Homo sapiens: one gene and its partner. The protein of the gene in region 1 purifies or fractionates together with the protein of each later gene. This does not show direct contact. Each region holds a gene or a part of one and is shown in the gene's direction. Other genes may lie near its edges.

Evidence for each region.
Region 2: the proteins of VRK2 (region 1) and MAP2K1 purify together in Homo sapiens (pull-down; 2 studies listed by IntAct, with this or other methods). This does not show direct contact.

What each region holds. Positions count from the first base shown.
Region 1 is NC_000002.12:58,049,319-58,057,616, forward strand, and holds part of VRK2 (serine/threonine-protein kinase VRK2), read left to right. Parts: intron 1-8,298. UniProt on the Homo sapiens protein: Serine/threonine kinase that regulates several signal transduction pathways.
Region 2 is NC_000015.10:66,389,912-66,396,911, forward strand, and holds part of MAP2K1 (dual specificity mitogen-activated protein kinase kinase 1), read left to right. Parts: intron 1-7,000. UniProt on the Homo sapiens protein: Dual specificity protein kinase which acts as an essential component of the MAP kinase signal transduction pathway.

The sequences.
Region 1 (8,298 bases):
TGTGAATCTTAATCAATATTTAGGCAATACAAGAGTCTAGTCATTTCTTAATTGGGCTCTACTGGAGAATTCATAGATAAAACTTAAGGCATCTATTCTGTGAAATGAATTAACTTCTCTCTCGTGCATCTAGAGTGGTCCCTAGGGATGTGCCATTCTTGGGATAATTGAAAAAATAAACACTCAAAATTATTTTCTGTGATCTGTGGTACAGGTAAGGAACCATGGGCTGGATAGGCCTTTACATTGCATTTAAGCATTTAAAAATTACACTGAACTTTAATGGATCATTGAGTTGGAATGAGGAGGGGATATCCATTAAAAGATTGATTAATAAAATAAGGAAAATAGTAGTGATTTTTAAAAATATACCCTCAAGGATAAATTCTCCTAAATGTACTCACTTGAGACTTGAGATCACATCTATTTCTATAGGAGATTAAGGAGTTGATAAAATACCTCCGTTGAGGGAATCTTGGGTTCTCATCACATATTTCCAGAAAAACATGCTTCATGGATCCTGAAATATAAAAGATCCTCTTCTGATAAAATTAAGATTGTAGTTTTGAATGAATGAATGAATGAAGTTTGGTCAATAAATATCTGCTTATTAAATACTTAAGTGTCTATTCTAGTTGGAAAGACAAGATCAGCACAAAAAATTGTATGAGTCAAGTAAAGGACCCATTTAAAGGGTTTGAACTTGCTTGAAATTGCTTGAAAAAATACTATGGTTATTAAGTGCTAGATTGAATGACATAGTCAACACTGTTCAATAGAAATGTAATACAAGTTACATATGTAGTTTAAAATTTTCTAGGAGCCACATTAAAATACGTTAAAAGAAACAGGTGAAATTATTTTAATAATATTTAATCTAGTATATCAAAAATATTATTTCAATATGCTCTCAACATAAACAAATGAAATATTTTACTTTTTTAAATGAAAGTCTTCAAAATCCAAGGTGTATCTAGTCTCAAGAGCCCAGTTAGCCCATGTGGCTCATATGCTCAGTAACTACATGTGGCTGCTGTATAGAATAGTGCAAATAAAGACTATGTGAGGATAAGTATTGTTTGAAACTTGAACTTAGTGAATTCTCTTTTACAGCAAAGAGTTAAGATCTCTAGTATACTGTCTTGACTCAAGGTTGAGATATAGTGTTGAATAAATTATTTCTGATGTGGCTGAGCTATAGCCTTGAATTCCATAGCTTATCACTTTTGGTTTTCTAATATTTGTATTATTTGAGTAATTTCAAAGAACTAGAGAAAAGTATTGATGTGTTGATTTTATCTCTTTGATTTTCTTGAAATGTAAATATTATATGTATTTAAATTCAAGTGAATGTTTAAGATTAAATAGTGTATGTCTGTATACCTGTATGTATCTATGTGTACACATAGTCACTATTGTTACTGTTATGATAAAGGAATATACTTGCATAGGCATGTGACTTACTTGTCCCTATTCAAATGCAGAAAAATATTTGCTTCTTTCAGTCTAGTACAGTGTCACATATTTTTACTTTTTTTTTTTTTGAGACAGAGTCTCGCTCTGTCACCCAGGCTGGAGTGCAGTGGCTCAATCTCGGCCCACTGCAACCTCCACCTCCTAGGTTCAAGCAATTCTCATGCCTCAACCTCCCAAGCATCTGGGACTACAGGCACCTGCCACCCTGCCTGGCTAATTTTTGTATTTTTAGTAGAAACGGGGTTTTGCCATATTGGCCAGGATGGTCTCGAACTCCTGACCTCAGGTGATCTGCCCACCTCGGCCTCCCGAAGTGTTGGGATTACAGACGTGAGCCACTGTGCCCAGCCTACTTATTTTTTTTTATTACCAAAATAATACTGTTTGTTTTACAATATATTTTCAGGGTTCAATATGTAAGGGAACATTCTCTAGTATCTGAACTTTAGAACCTGGACCCTACCTAGGAAGATTAGCAAGTACACACCACTGAGGAAGGACTTTAAAGAAATATTTAGCTATTTTCAGAAAAAAGGCTCCAGTACTTCAGAATTTATAATAAAGATGTGTGTTCCAAATGTTGTAACTGTTCCATTAAAAGTGATGCTAATGAATCATAGAATCAGTTTAATTTCACTAAACTTAGTTTTTACTATTTTCAAAGCTATACAAACAAATCAATATGAAATTACATCATGTTTTTGCATTTTATCATGGTTCTCATCACTTCCTCTATATAAATGAAGAGAAGAAGCAGTAAAATTCAAATTTTCCTGAATACTTTTGTGTCCAGTGACATTCATTTCGATTCTTTCCAGATACCCTCTTTCAGCAGACACTTGATCAGCGTTTACTGCCTAAGGCTGAGAAGAAACTAGCTGCTCTGTCTAGCTCATTGTACATGTACAACTGTCCTCTAGCTTTGAGATCAGTAGCCAGGGCCTTTCGGTAATCAGCAGCTTACAGTTAAGGGGAAGGGGCAGAGAAGTTTGGTATTTACTCTTGACTTGGAGAAATAATGTGCCTCTAGCATTAATAAGAAATAGCTAAAAGAGTGAAAAGAAAAGTCTGAATACAAGAACAAAGTCAAAGTTCTTTCTTTGAATATGAAAAGAGAAGGGGAGGAAAAAGGAAGAAAGGAAACTGGTTTAGGGGATGGGAAAAATTGCTGTCATTTTAGTATCAAATGAATGAAAAAGTTTTTTAAATATCAGGAAGGAGAGAAAACTGAGGGTTAGAATTTTACTATAATGCTGGGTATAACACAGAACCAAGTAAATTACGGGAGAATTGCATAAATAATAGCAGAGGTTTTGGCATTAGGCATATCTGACCTGAATCCTGACCTGATGAAGCCACTTATTCATCTAGTTACTTAATCCTTTGGGTTGTTTCTATTCTGCATAATTGTGATAATAATAATTGTGAGGAGAATTAAATGAGATTTTTTTAAGGAACTTGGTAAGCATTTAATAAATGTAATTTAGTTATTTATTTCCATAGACTTTCCCATTCTTAATACTGGTGCCATAGTGGGGCCAGGCACAGTGGCTCATGCCAGTAATCCTAGCACTTTGGAAGGCCCAGGCGGGTGGATTGCCTGAGCTCCATCCAGCCTGGGCAACTTGGTGAAACCCCATCTCTACTAAAACACAAAAAATTAGCTGGTTGTGGTAATGTGTGTGTGTAGTCCCAGTACTCAGGAGGCTGTGGCATGAGAATTGCTTGAACCTGGGAGGAGGAGGTTGCAGTGAGCCAAGATTGCACCACTGCATTCTAGCTTAGGTGACGGAGTGAGACTGTCTCAAAAAAAAAAAAAAAAAAATGCTGCCATAGTGGATTAAGATGATGACAAAGAACTCCATTGGAAGGGTGGATTTTCTATTTATTCTACTATGAATTTTGGTGGATTTAACTACTAATGTGGTAAAACTGAGAACATAGAGAATGTCAGCATAAGACTTTATGACATTTTACTAACTGATAAAAGCTCCCCCTAAAATTTGCTATAGTAGTGAAAAGTTCTCATATAAGCTGTATTTAATCTGCCTCAGATATTAAAGCTATTGGTTTCAGAAATTATTCAAAATTGAGAATAACAGAATTACAGGATAAACTTTAGCCACATTCTTTTGAAGGCTGATTATGTAAGTAAAAGATATGATTTATCTGTAGCAGTTTTAGTTTTTTGAAGGTGGCATAGTGATGACCATTTAGCATCTTTGGAGTGTCAAGCACAGAATAGATGTTCAACAGTTATTTGCCTGAGAAATTGAGACTGAGATTGGAGTACTTAACCCACACAAGCTAGTTTGCTTTGTTCTCTTCCATAATTATAGATGTCACTCTTCGATCTACTGCAGATTAGTATCCTTAGTCACCAGGAAAGTTGAGACAAGGCACCTATCATGACATCATCTAAAAGAATGTGCATGTGCTTTATTGACAGGACATCAGTAGCAATATCTTTTATAAAGATACTATCTCAAAGCTTTTATAAAGAATAACACATTATTATAACTAAAGTTAACTGTGGTGAAGCCTGAAAATCAGATCATTTATCCATGGACAGATGTTTAAATTTCATCAAAGTGACTGCCAGACATTTTTGGATCATGTTGTCGGATTAGCCTAATTTTGTACTTCAGAAACATAGAAGGAATCTTTTGTTGGCGGATAGGTTTTTAGAAATTACCAAAGTTTAAATCATTTATTTTACTGATAAGGAAACATTTATATTTAAAACAAGTAAATATAAACCACATACATAGAATGTTTTTACTTCTTCATAAAATAATTTTTTATTTTCTTTATAAATAGTGAGCTATAATAGATTGATTTTAAGGTATGCAGAATAAAGTTTAGAAGAGCCCAGTGATAATACTAGCAACAAAGTAGTGTGTTGGAATACATATTGCTTCATTACATATTACATTATTAAGTGTTATTTTGGTAGTGTTTATAGAGAGCTTTGAGATAAATAGCCTTATCTGACACAATGCAACGTTGTGGTGCCACTGCAATTGTTATTAGGCAATTTTGCAAATGATACTGTGGGAGTGAAGAGAAGAATTGAATAAATGTGAAAATGAGAATAATTTGGACTAGAAACTATAGTGTTTATGATAAATTAGTCTCCAGAAGGTATAAATAATAGGTAATATAAACTCAAAACAGGGAAGGAATCACTTGGAGTTTTGTAAATTTAATACGTTTGTTGGACTTACAGACAAGAAATAAAAGTCTCTATAAGATGTATTTTAATTTTGTTTATATTTAAATTTTGAGTTTTTAAAGAGATAGCAGTACCCAGTTATCTATCAGTTAAGAAATCTGGGTGTTTAAGAAAGTTTGGGTTCCTTCCATTAAAAGGGAGATTTATAAGACTTGGCTTTTGCTTGGCTTTTTCATTTTTTTAAATATCCATTTTTAAGCATATTTTATATTATGGTTCTTCTTTATTTTCAACATTTTACTGTCAAATTCTTTTGCCTTAAGGGAAGATTTATAAAATACTCTATTCTTCAGTGCATTTATATATTATGTCTCTTCCACTGGACCTGTTACTATCTTGTAACTGTTTACAGTGGTCAAGGTTTTTTTTTTTTAATTTGAAACATATTGCTGTGGGGAAATTTCTTCTTCCTGAAATGAGCTCACCTCTATTGCCACACAATAAAAGAATTCTCAGCTTTTGAGAGCTCTGGCTTCCTTATGAAATATGGATAGACTTCTGCTTCTGAAGTGTTTTAGGTTTTTTTCTTTAGATAAGGAAGAAGAGGAATAAATAGTATGAGGTGTGTTTCTTCTTTTAAGACACAGGAATATCTATATCAGATAAATGAGAAGAAAATTAAGAAACTTTAAAGCTCTAAATGAGAGAGCTCATTAGAAATTAGCTACTTGGATGATGAAAATTTCTTCATCATCTACACTTAAAGGCATTTATGGTTTTTATACTACTTAGATACTTGATTTTGCAATTAGTATTTCTTTAGAATGTTTGTCCCTGATAGCTCCATCACATGGACTGTTATTCCTGAACACTCTGTTGTATTCTCCATGAAAAAATATTTTAGGAGAAAAGATAGAAAACTCAGCAATTATTTCAAGATAATTGTTGAGGACTTCCCTTGTTTCTTTTAAAAGCATAGCCTTTTGTTAGCCAGGTAGATTTATCTTTTCTTTAACATCTTCGATCAAGTAATACTTGAGGGAAATATTCTGTAGAAAGACATCCATTGAAGGCCAGAAACATCTACAGATGCAATGTGATCCCAAGCAATGAAGCATGTGGCCCTTCATTGGCATTATATGATAACAGGAGGATCTTCTGGCAGAAGAAGTGACTTTTGCTGCGTTCTGCATGCTGCCCCTCCAAACCCATCTTTGATTGGCACCTATGCCCTATTGAAACTGGCATCACACCTTCTGAATGGGCACAGTGCCAGGCTAGCAGATGGGTATGGGCAAAAGCATGCCAGAAACCCAGTATGTGAATCAAGTTTAAGTATCAGGGGCCCAAATTCCCATCCAGGGATATAAAAACTACAGTCTGTTGAGAGCTTTTTGTGCTTAAGGTTAAAGGACATGCCATTTCTACTCCAACTTAGAAGTTGATTAATTTTGAAAGTCAAACAGCAGCTCCTGTGGCTGTGTCAGGCAAAATCCTGTCTTTGGTGAATGAGAATTACTACTTCGTGTAGGGAAGAGAAAGTATTGTAATGAAGTTTCCAATGAGAGTTACTCTCCTGCAAGTGCCTCCAGCACTTAAGCAGCATGCATTCAGTGGAGATGAATATTTCTGTTCTCCAGCAGAGCCAGGTGCAATCAAAGCCAGATCTTCAACCTGCTGCAGTAAAGAACCCTAAATTTAGAAAGGGCAGGCAAAGTTTAGAAGAACTCCTTGGTGGCAGGCAGCTCTTTTCACTATGAGCTGATGAAGCTTCACAAAATTGTATAAAGGAGATGAAGGGAAAACTCCAAATAAAAGACCTTCAGAAAATTTCATCCAGAAACAGAAAGATTTTTAACAAACCAAAGGAAAAAGTTTAGTCCTTTCTCCTCAATGCAGAAAATCTTCTGAGTTTTCTATCAATAAAAACTTAGTTAACCAAAATGTTAGAACCAACTTAATGCATAAGTGACAAAACTTTCTATTTTTACATTTATTTCATTGCATGTCTATCATGTATATAAACTTTGCTTCTTGAATAATGGATTTTGCATAAAATTGAGAACTCTAAACATCATATTTCCTTCTGATTGTCTCACACCCACTACAGAACTCCCCTCCCCCACCCCCTAAAAGAGGGCACGCTTCCTTCTGATCACTTTAATCATATCTTCTAAATGCTCTAAAATTTACAGGAATGCCTGTAAGACCAGCTGTGGCCAAGAGAAGCTTTTCCTAATCGCCTTATAGCCGTTGCTTTTGCTTTTTCACTGTGTAAACTTTATCTATGGAACAGATTCCATGAGACCGTTGTGAATACTTCAACGTATTCAAAACATATAACTGCCACAAATTAAACTACTAAAACTAAAGCTGGTGCATTGTAACTGCCAAGTAAAACTGGCACGTCCCTCTGTCAGACTGCAGGAGAGTGTGCCATACAGTCCTCGGAAAACACAATTCATCCAGAAGCACTCTTGTCACTTGCTCTGATATTAAACCAGAGAAAGTGACATTAATTAAAGAAGTGACATGAGCCAACAAAGGCAATGAATTCTCAGCTTTGGCTCATGTGCAGACCTTAATCCAACCTGTTCTGCTTAGGTAGTGTGGCTATTTCTGAAGAGTAACTAGTGTGGCTACTCACCCCACTTCCTCTCATCTTCCCATTCTGCATCACGTGTTTGAGGAACTAACATTTTATATCCAGGGTTGGACTGGTTAATTGGTACACTGGTAGTCATTGCAGGGCTTCCCAAAATAGTAGTGTGGTGGCATGTGATGCTTTTATTGTACTTGGTAATAGTGTGAGATGTACAACTAGAGGTAGAGGAGAGTTGGTCTAACGAAAAGGCAAGCAACAGCCAAACAGCAGAATACCTAGACTTGGTAGACTGGAAGCGAGGAGGGTCTGCTGCTAGGACTGGTTGTGGAAACAAATGGTGGCTTGGTAGGCTTTATGAAAATTCTGAAATGCTAAAGAGGCATGCTGGGGAGTGTTCATAACTTCTCTCTTTCTTTGTTCCGATGGTGTGCTTTCACACAATGCTCACCTCATTATTTCAGACGGTCACTATTTTGTATGCTGTCTTTTTAACCTGTTTCCCCCAACATGTGTGCACACAGACACTACATTATAAACTGCTTTCAGGCAGTCACTCACAGTGCTTAATATGGCCTTGCATGTTATAGTTCTTAAAAAATGATGTGTTAAATTAACTCTAGAACTGTTCTATTATGATTTTCCCAATAAATAGGTTGTATGAGACAAAAAAATTCCATGCTCTATCCTATATGTGACCTGCGTGTAAGGCACTGTACTTTCAGATTTAGATAAATTCTTTTGTATCTTTTGGGGAGTTTGAAGGGATAAAAGTATGTGTTTATTCTCTTTTCAAGTATATTTTTAAAATACAAGAAGCTGTGTACTTAATCCATAGATTGTAGAATTTATTGTGAAGAGTCTACTCTGTTAAAGCATAGTATGGAGAGGGGACTAAAAAATGGACATTGTGTTAAGACAAATCAGTTTTCTCTTTCTAATAAAACAGTTCTTCTGAGTAGTATTTAATTGAAGTAGACCTAATAGCAAGTATAAACGTTTGTGGGGAAAAGCATGGTGTTTACTATAAAATGGATTGACTTAT
Region 2 (7,000 bases), on another chromosome or scaffold:
TTTTTTTCATCTGCAAAAATGGGGCTAATGATAGAACCTACTTAGCATAGTTGTGAAGATTAAATGAGGTAGTACATAGTAAACTTCCAAAGCTGTTGGCTGCTGGTGCCTTTGTTACTGCCTAAGTGTTGGACCAAAGGAAACTGGAAGGTGATTTTCATTCATGGTGGTAGATTATGTGTTAAGGTGCCTTTGCTTCTGGACAATCAACTCTCCCTAGTTTGGTTTTTTGTACCATCTGCATCTACCTCTATGACTCATTGCTGTGTTACAATAGGAGGCATCTTTGTGTAGGCTGCCCAAGACAAACAGGGACTGTTTCCCTGTGTTTCATAGCACTAATGAGAGGGAAAGCTGTACACATCTTCATCTTTCACTTCTGAGAGTGTTCCTCAAGCAAAATGTTCCCTATCTTGGGCTACCAGCAGAAAGAATTCTGTTGCTTTCATGATTTCTGTGATTAGACCAGGGCACAATTTTGAACGTTATCAGACAATGTGAACTAAAGAGGAAGAAAATCCATTTTGACAGTAAAGAACTCTTGGTACCAAATTGGCAAGGTTGCTTTTCCCTTGGCACCTGTGCTTACCTCTAACATAGCCCTTACCCAGTTCAGAGATGGAGTTGGGTAATACGGGACCTGAAGTTGATGCAAGTTGTAGGGGTCCTCAAAGAAAAATCATGCAAAAATAGCTTTCTTTTGTGTATTTTGCAGAAACATGTGAGCATATTACTAGGGTCTTAAGTGTTAGAATGAGATAATGAGATAATATTGTTCCTCTGTTTAAAATGTTCTTCTGGTTCTATTGCAGTTACACAAAATCCAAACTCCTTATATTGGACTATGAGACTGAGTGATCTGCCTGTTGTCCCCACCACCCCCTCCCACCAATCTCTTTAACCACATTTCCTGCCACTCCTTTCTTCCACCACACTAGTCCTCTTTCACTTCCTCTATGGGATGGTCTATACGCACTGCAGGCCTCTGTACATGCTGTTCCCTTTGCCTGGAATGAATCACTCCTCCTTCCCTAGGTAGGCAGGAAGCAGTCTTCACCTATTTGCCTAAATGTCACTTCCTCTGAGATGTTTATAAGCATCTCAGAGGAATGTGGTCCCTCTTTGTCATGTCACCTGAGCTGCTGCTTTTTTTTTTTTTTTTGGTATGGGGGTCTTGGTATGTTGCCCAGGCTGGTTCTTGAACTCCTGGACTCCAGTGATTCTACCACCTCAGCCTCTTGAGTAGCTGGGACTATAGGTGGGTACTACTGTGCCTGGCGCTCACCTGAGCTTTTAATAAGACTTAATCATTGTAATTTTTCATTGGGGTGTTCTTAATATTTATCTCTCCTGTACACTATAAACTTTAAGCACAGCACTGCCTTTTTGTTTTTTGAGACGGAGTCTCGCTCTATCGCCCAGGCTGGAATGCAGTGGCACTACCTCGGCTCACTGCAAGCTCCGCCTCCCAGGTTCATGCCATTCTCCTGCCTCAGCCTCCCAAGTAGCTGGGACTACAGGCGCCCACCACTGCGTCCAGCTAATTTTTTGTATTTTTAGTAGAGATGGGGTTTCACCATGTTAGCCAGGATGGTCTCGATCTCCTGATCTCGTGATCCCAAAGTGCTGGGATTACAGGCGTGAGCCACTGTGCCCAGCCTGCACTGCCTTTTTTTGACTCACCACTCTGTAAGTACACCCAAAATAGTTCTGGCACATAATAGGTCCATAGATGTTTGTTGAGTCAGTGAGTGAATGAAATTTCTAATATTTGCACAACGGGTTTAATAAACCTTTTTATGTCTTTTCCTTTTCTTTTCCCCTTTATGCTCATTCCTTTTTTCCCCATTTTCTTTTGTTTTAGTCACCCACTCAACCATTCTAAGATATTTATATGGTTTTATAATTCCACCTGTTAGTCTGGTTATGTGTATACCCTTGGGAAGTAGAAGGATGGTTTTGTATGTATCTGCTTAGGATTCTAAAATGTTATTGTGCTACAAATCTGCATTTCATAGACAGGATAGAATAGGTTATGTTGAGGTAACAACCACAAAATCTCAGTAATTTAACACACTTTCAGGTCAGTGGGAGGCTCTGTAGATTGGAGTCCTTTAGGGATCCAGGCTGATCGAGGCATCGTCTCTCAAGTATACCTACATGAGGAGGGAATCTTGTGAAGAGCTACATTCAGGCTCTTAAAGTTTTGCCTAGAGGTGAGCCTTGTCATTTTTGCTGCCATTTCTTTGGCCAGAGCAAATCATGTGGCCATGTTGACCTTCAAGGAGGGCAGTGACCTTTTTGGAAGGGGGAGAACCACGAATATTTGTGTGTTTTTTTTGGGTTTTTTTTTTTTTTTTTTTTTTTTAAGAAAGGGTTTCGCTCCCACTGCCCAGGCTGGAGTATAATGGTGCGTGCCACCACGCCCTGCTAAGTTTTGATTGTTTTGTAGAGATGGGGTTTCACCATGTTGCTCAGGCTGGTCTTGAACTCTTGGGCTCAAGCGATCTGCCCACCTCATCTTCCCAAAGTGCTGAAATTATAGGTATGAGCCACTGTGCTGGTGCACCAGGAGTATTTGAACAGAAGCAATGACCATCCCTAAATTTTATATCAGTTTCTTCTTTGTTTTCTTTTCTTTTCTTTTTTTTTTTTTTTTGAGATGGAGTTTTGCTCTTGTTGCCCAGGCTGGAGTGCAATGGCATGATCTCGGCTCACCGCAACCTCCGCCCCCCAGGTTCAAGCTATTCTCCTGCCTCAGCCTCCTGAGTAGCTGGGATTACAGGCATGTGCCACCGTGCCTGGCTAATTTTGTATTTTTAGTAGAGACAGGGTTTCACCATGTTGGTCAGGCTGGTCTCGAACTCCTGACCTCAGATGATCCGCCTGCCTCAGCCTCCCAAAGTGTTGGGCTTACAGGCGTGAGCCACCATGCCTGGCCTTAGTTTCTTTTTTTAACCAATTTTGTTTTGAGCTCTATTCATGATGCTATACAATATGTGTCTAGTTCATTATTTCTCTTGGTTGTAGAGCAGTCATGTTTGCCTGCCACATTTTACTTATTTATTTCTCTAGAATTAGACATCTTTGTTGTTTCCCAACCCCTTGCTGCCTCAAACAGTCATGACCATGCCCATCCTTGCACATCCTTGTCTCCTTTGGATGTTGTGAGAGAGTTTCCTGTGGAATGTACTCAGAAGTGGAATTGCTGGGTCTTAGGGTACATTGTCTCTCCTTCCAGGATAAGGCATGTTATCTCTTTCTCTCTCTCTTTTTTTTTTTTTGAGACCGAGTCTCACTCTGTTGCCCAGGCTGGAGTGCAGTGTTGCAATCCTGGCTCACTGCAACCCCTCCCCACAAGGTTCAAGCAATTCTCCTGCCTTAGCCTCCTGAGTAGCTGGGATTACAGGTGCCTGACACCATGCCCAGCTAATTTTTATATTTTTAGTAGAGACAGGGTTTCATTATATTGCTCAGGCTGGTCTCCAAGTCCTGACCTTGTGATCTGCCCTCCTTGGCCTCCCAAAGTGCTGGGATTACAGGTGTGAACCACCGCACCGGCTATTAATCTCTTTCTTTAAAACAATACCGTTAATCCAGTTGCAGTAGTGAGGCAGGGTACCTCTCAAGATCTCACTTTTTCTTTGACCTTGGGCAAGTCCTTTCTACTTTCTGACTCTTGGTTTCCTTAATCTGTAAAGTGGAGGTGATAATTGTTTACAAAATCTTTACCATGGTGGCCTACAAGGCCCTACCTGACCAGGTCCTTAGTTTTCTTCCAGTGTTCTCTTCACTCATGCACTCTAGCCACACTGTCCTTTGTGCTGTTGGGTTGTAGGTTGGGCACATTCTTATCTTAGAATCTTTGCATTTGCCATTCCTGCTGCCTGGAAAGCTTGTCTCTCAAATACCGTATGACTTGCTTCCTCACTTCCTTCACCCCTCTGTTGAAATGTCTCTTCACAGAGGCCATCTTTGATCACTGTAATACAGAACTCCCTGTCATTTTCTACCCTTTGATTTTGCCTTATTTTTCTTTGTAGCGCTGATCACTAACTGATGTTACATCGTGTATAAGTATTTATCTTCTTCTGCCACCCCAAGTGTAAGCTTCATGATGGTTGGGGCTTTGCCTTGTTCATTGCTCAGTGTGTAGAACAGATTCTGGCACATAGAAAATACTCAGTAGATACCTGTTGATTAAATGATTGACTAGATCCTACCTCAGAGGAATACCTTTGAAGATGTATAAAATTTCTTTGAAGGCTATAAGGTGCCGAATAACCTTAGGAGGGTTCACTGCTTGGCCTTAGTAGCGTTCATGATTTTGGATTTTGAATTGTTTCTATGTAACCCTGAAACACTCAGACTTACTTATTGCATTCAGGGTGTAGTTCATAGCATCAGCAGTTCTGCCAGGTTTGTAAGGAACACACATCTGTTAGAGTGTGAAGGCCCTGGAGGAAGAAAGGTTGAGACAGGTTGATGTGCTTTTTTTTGTCTCTTATGGCTCTTTCTGAGATGTGTACCATGATGATAACCAGGAACTTTTTTTTTTTTTTTTTTTTTGAGAGACAGGGTCTTGCTCAGACACTCAGGCTGGAGTGCATTGGTGCTCACTATAACCTTGAACTCCTGGGTTCAGGGAATCCTCCTGCTTCAGCCTCCTAAGTAGCTAGTACTACCGGCATGTACCACCATGCCTGGCTAATTTTAAAATTTAGAGATAGGGTCTTGCTGTATTGCCCAGGCTGGGCTCAAACTCCTTGCCTCATGCAATCCTCCCTCCTTGGCCTCCCAAAAGTGCTGGGTTTACAGGCATGAGCCACCATGTCTGGCCTGATAAGTAGGAGCTTTTGAAGTGGTTTCACACTGATTTTGTAGTTTTGAACTTGGATGCTTCTTTTGGGTAGTTGATGCAGTAACTAATACTGGTGCTGTCTTTCAGAACAGCTTCATGTGAAAAAGGCCTGCTTAAGCCTGTGTCTTTGGGAAGAACATCTCTGCCGCTGTTACAGCAGATACAGTAATAGCAAAGAAAGTCTTAAAGATGATTTAGCCCATGGCAAGGAAATATATGGGACTCTTGTTTGAATATAAACACTCACAGAATTCCAGTTTCACTTATTTATGCACCTTTCAAAGAAAGGAAGAAGATACTGTGGTAGAGTACAGTAGTCCTCCCTTATCTGAGTGGCATATGTTCCAAGACCCCTAGTGGATGCCTGAAACCACAGATATCAATAGTACCAAACCCTGCATATACTGTGTTTTTTCCTATGCAGTATATGCCTATGATGAAGTTTAATTTATAAATTAGGCATAGTAAGAGATTAACAATAATAACCAATAAAAAAGAATTATAACAATATATTGTAATGACAGTTACATGAATGTGGTTACTGTACTCACTGTGGGTAACTGGAATTGTCAAAGCAAAACTACATTTAAGTGGGTACTCCTGTAGCTGTTGGCCCTGCCTTGCCTATCTAGCTTAATTTTCCTCTGTTTTTCCGTTCACCTGCTGTGGTCCACTTACCACTTTCTTTACTCTCCTCACTGTGCCACCAGCATACTGTTGCTTACCTTCTTACATCTGTCTGGTCTTGCTGACATGGTTTTTTTTTTTGTCTGAAATGCCCTCCTCCACTTTCTTGCATGATTTTTTTTTTTTTTTTTTTGAGACGGAGTCTCACTCTGTCACCCAGGCTAGAGTGTGCAGTCACATGATCTTGGCTCACTGCAACCTCTGCCCACTGGGCTCAAGTGAGTATCGTGCCTCAGCCTCCCGAGTAGCTGGGATTACAGGCGCACACCACCACGCCGGGCTAATTCTTGTTATTTTTAGTAGAGACGGCGTCTCACCATGTTGCCCAGCCTGGTCTCGAACCCCTGACCTCAGGTGATCCACTGCCTCAGCCTCCCAAACTGCTGGGATTACAGGCGCCTGGCCCTCTTGCATGTTTTTATTTTTGTTTTATACTTGCCACTACACTTTAACTTCTGTGAAAACAGGGACTGTGATTGTCTTGTGTACTGGTATTTCTCCACCGTCTGCTGTGGGGCCTAGAATAAAATAAATGGTACCCATCTTTTTTGTTTTGTTTTGTTTTTGGAGATGAGTCTCACTCTGTCCCCAGACTGGAGTGCAGTGGCGCGATCTCGCCTCAGTGCAACCTATGCCTCCCGGGTTCAAGCGATTCTCCTGCCTCAGCCTCCCAAGTAGCTGGGCTACAGGTATGCGCCACCACATCTGGCTAATTTTTGTATTTTTAGTACAAAATTTAAAAATGATGGCCTCGATGTCGTGATCCGCCCTCCTCGGCCTCCCAAAGTGCTGGGATTACAGGTGTGAGTCACCGTGCCCGGCCCTTTTGTTTTTTTGAGATGGAGTTTCACTCTTCTCATCCAGGCTGGAGTGCAGTGGCATGATCTTGGCTCACGGCCACCTCCGCCTCCCACATTTTCCTGCCTCGGCCTCCCAAGTAGCTATGATAACAGGCACACACCACCATGGCCGGCTAATTTTTTTATTTTTAGTAGAGACAGGATTTCACCATGTTGGTCAGGCTGGTCTCGAACTCCTGACCTCAGGTGATATGCCTGCCTCAGCCCCACAAGGTGCTGGGATTACAGGCGTGAGACACCGTATCTGCCCCGGATGGTACCGATCTTTCAAGATCTTACATAAAGCTTATCTCCAATGTGTGTAGTCTTTTCTGAGCAACTCCATGCCATGCTCAGTTACATCACTCCCTACTTAGTTATAATAGTTCTTTTTTCTTTTTTTGAGACAGAGTTTTGCTCTTGTTGCCCAAGCTGGAGTGCAATGGCGTGATCTCGGCTCACTGCAACCTCTGCCTCCTGGGTTCAAGCGATTCTCCTGCCTCAGCCTCCCAAGTAGCTATGATTATAGGCGCACACCACCACTCCCAGCTAATTTTTGTATTTTTAGTAGAGGCAGGGTTTCACCATGTTGGCCAGGCTGGTCTTGAACTCC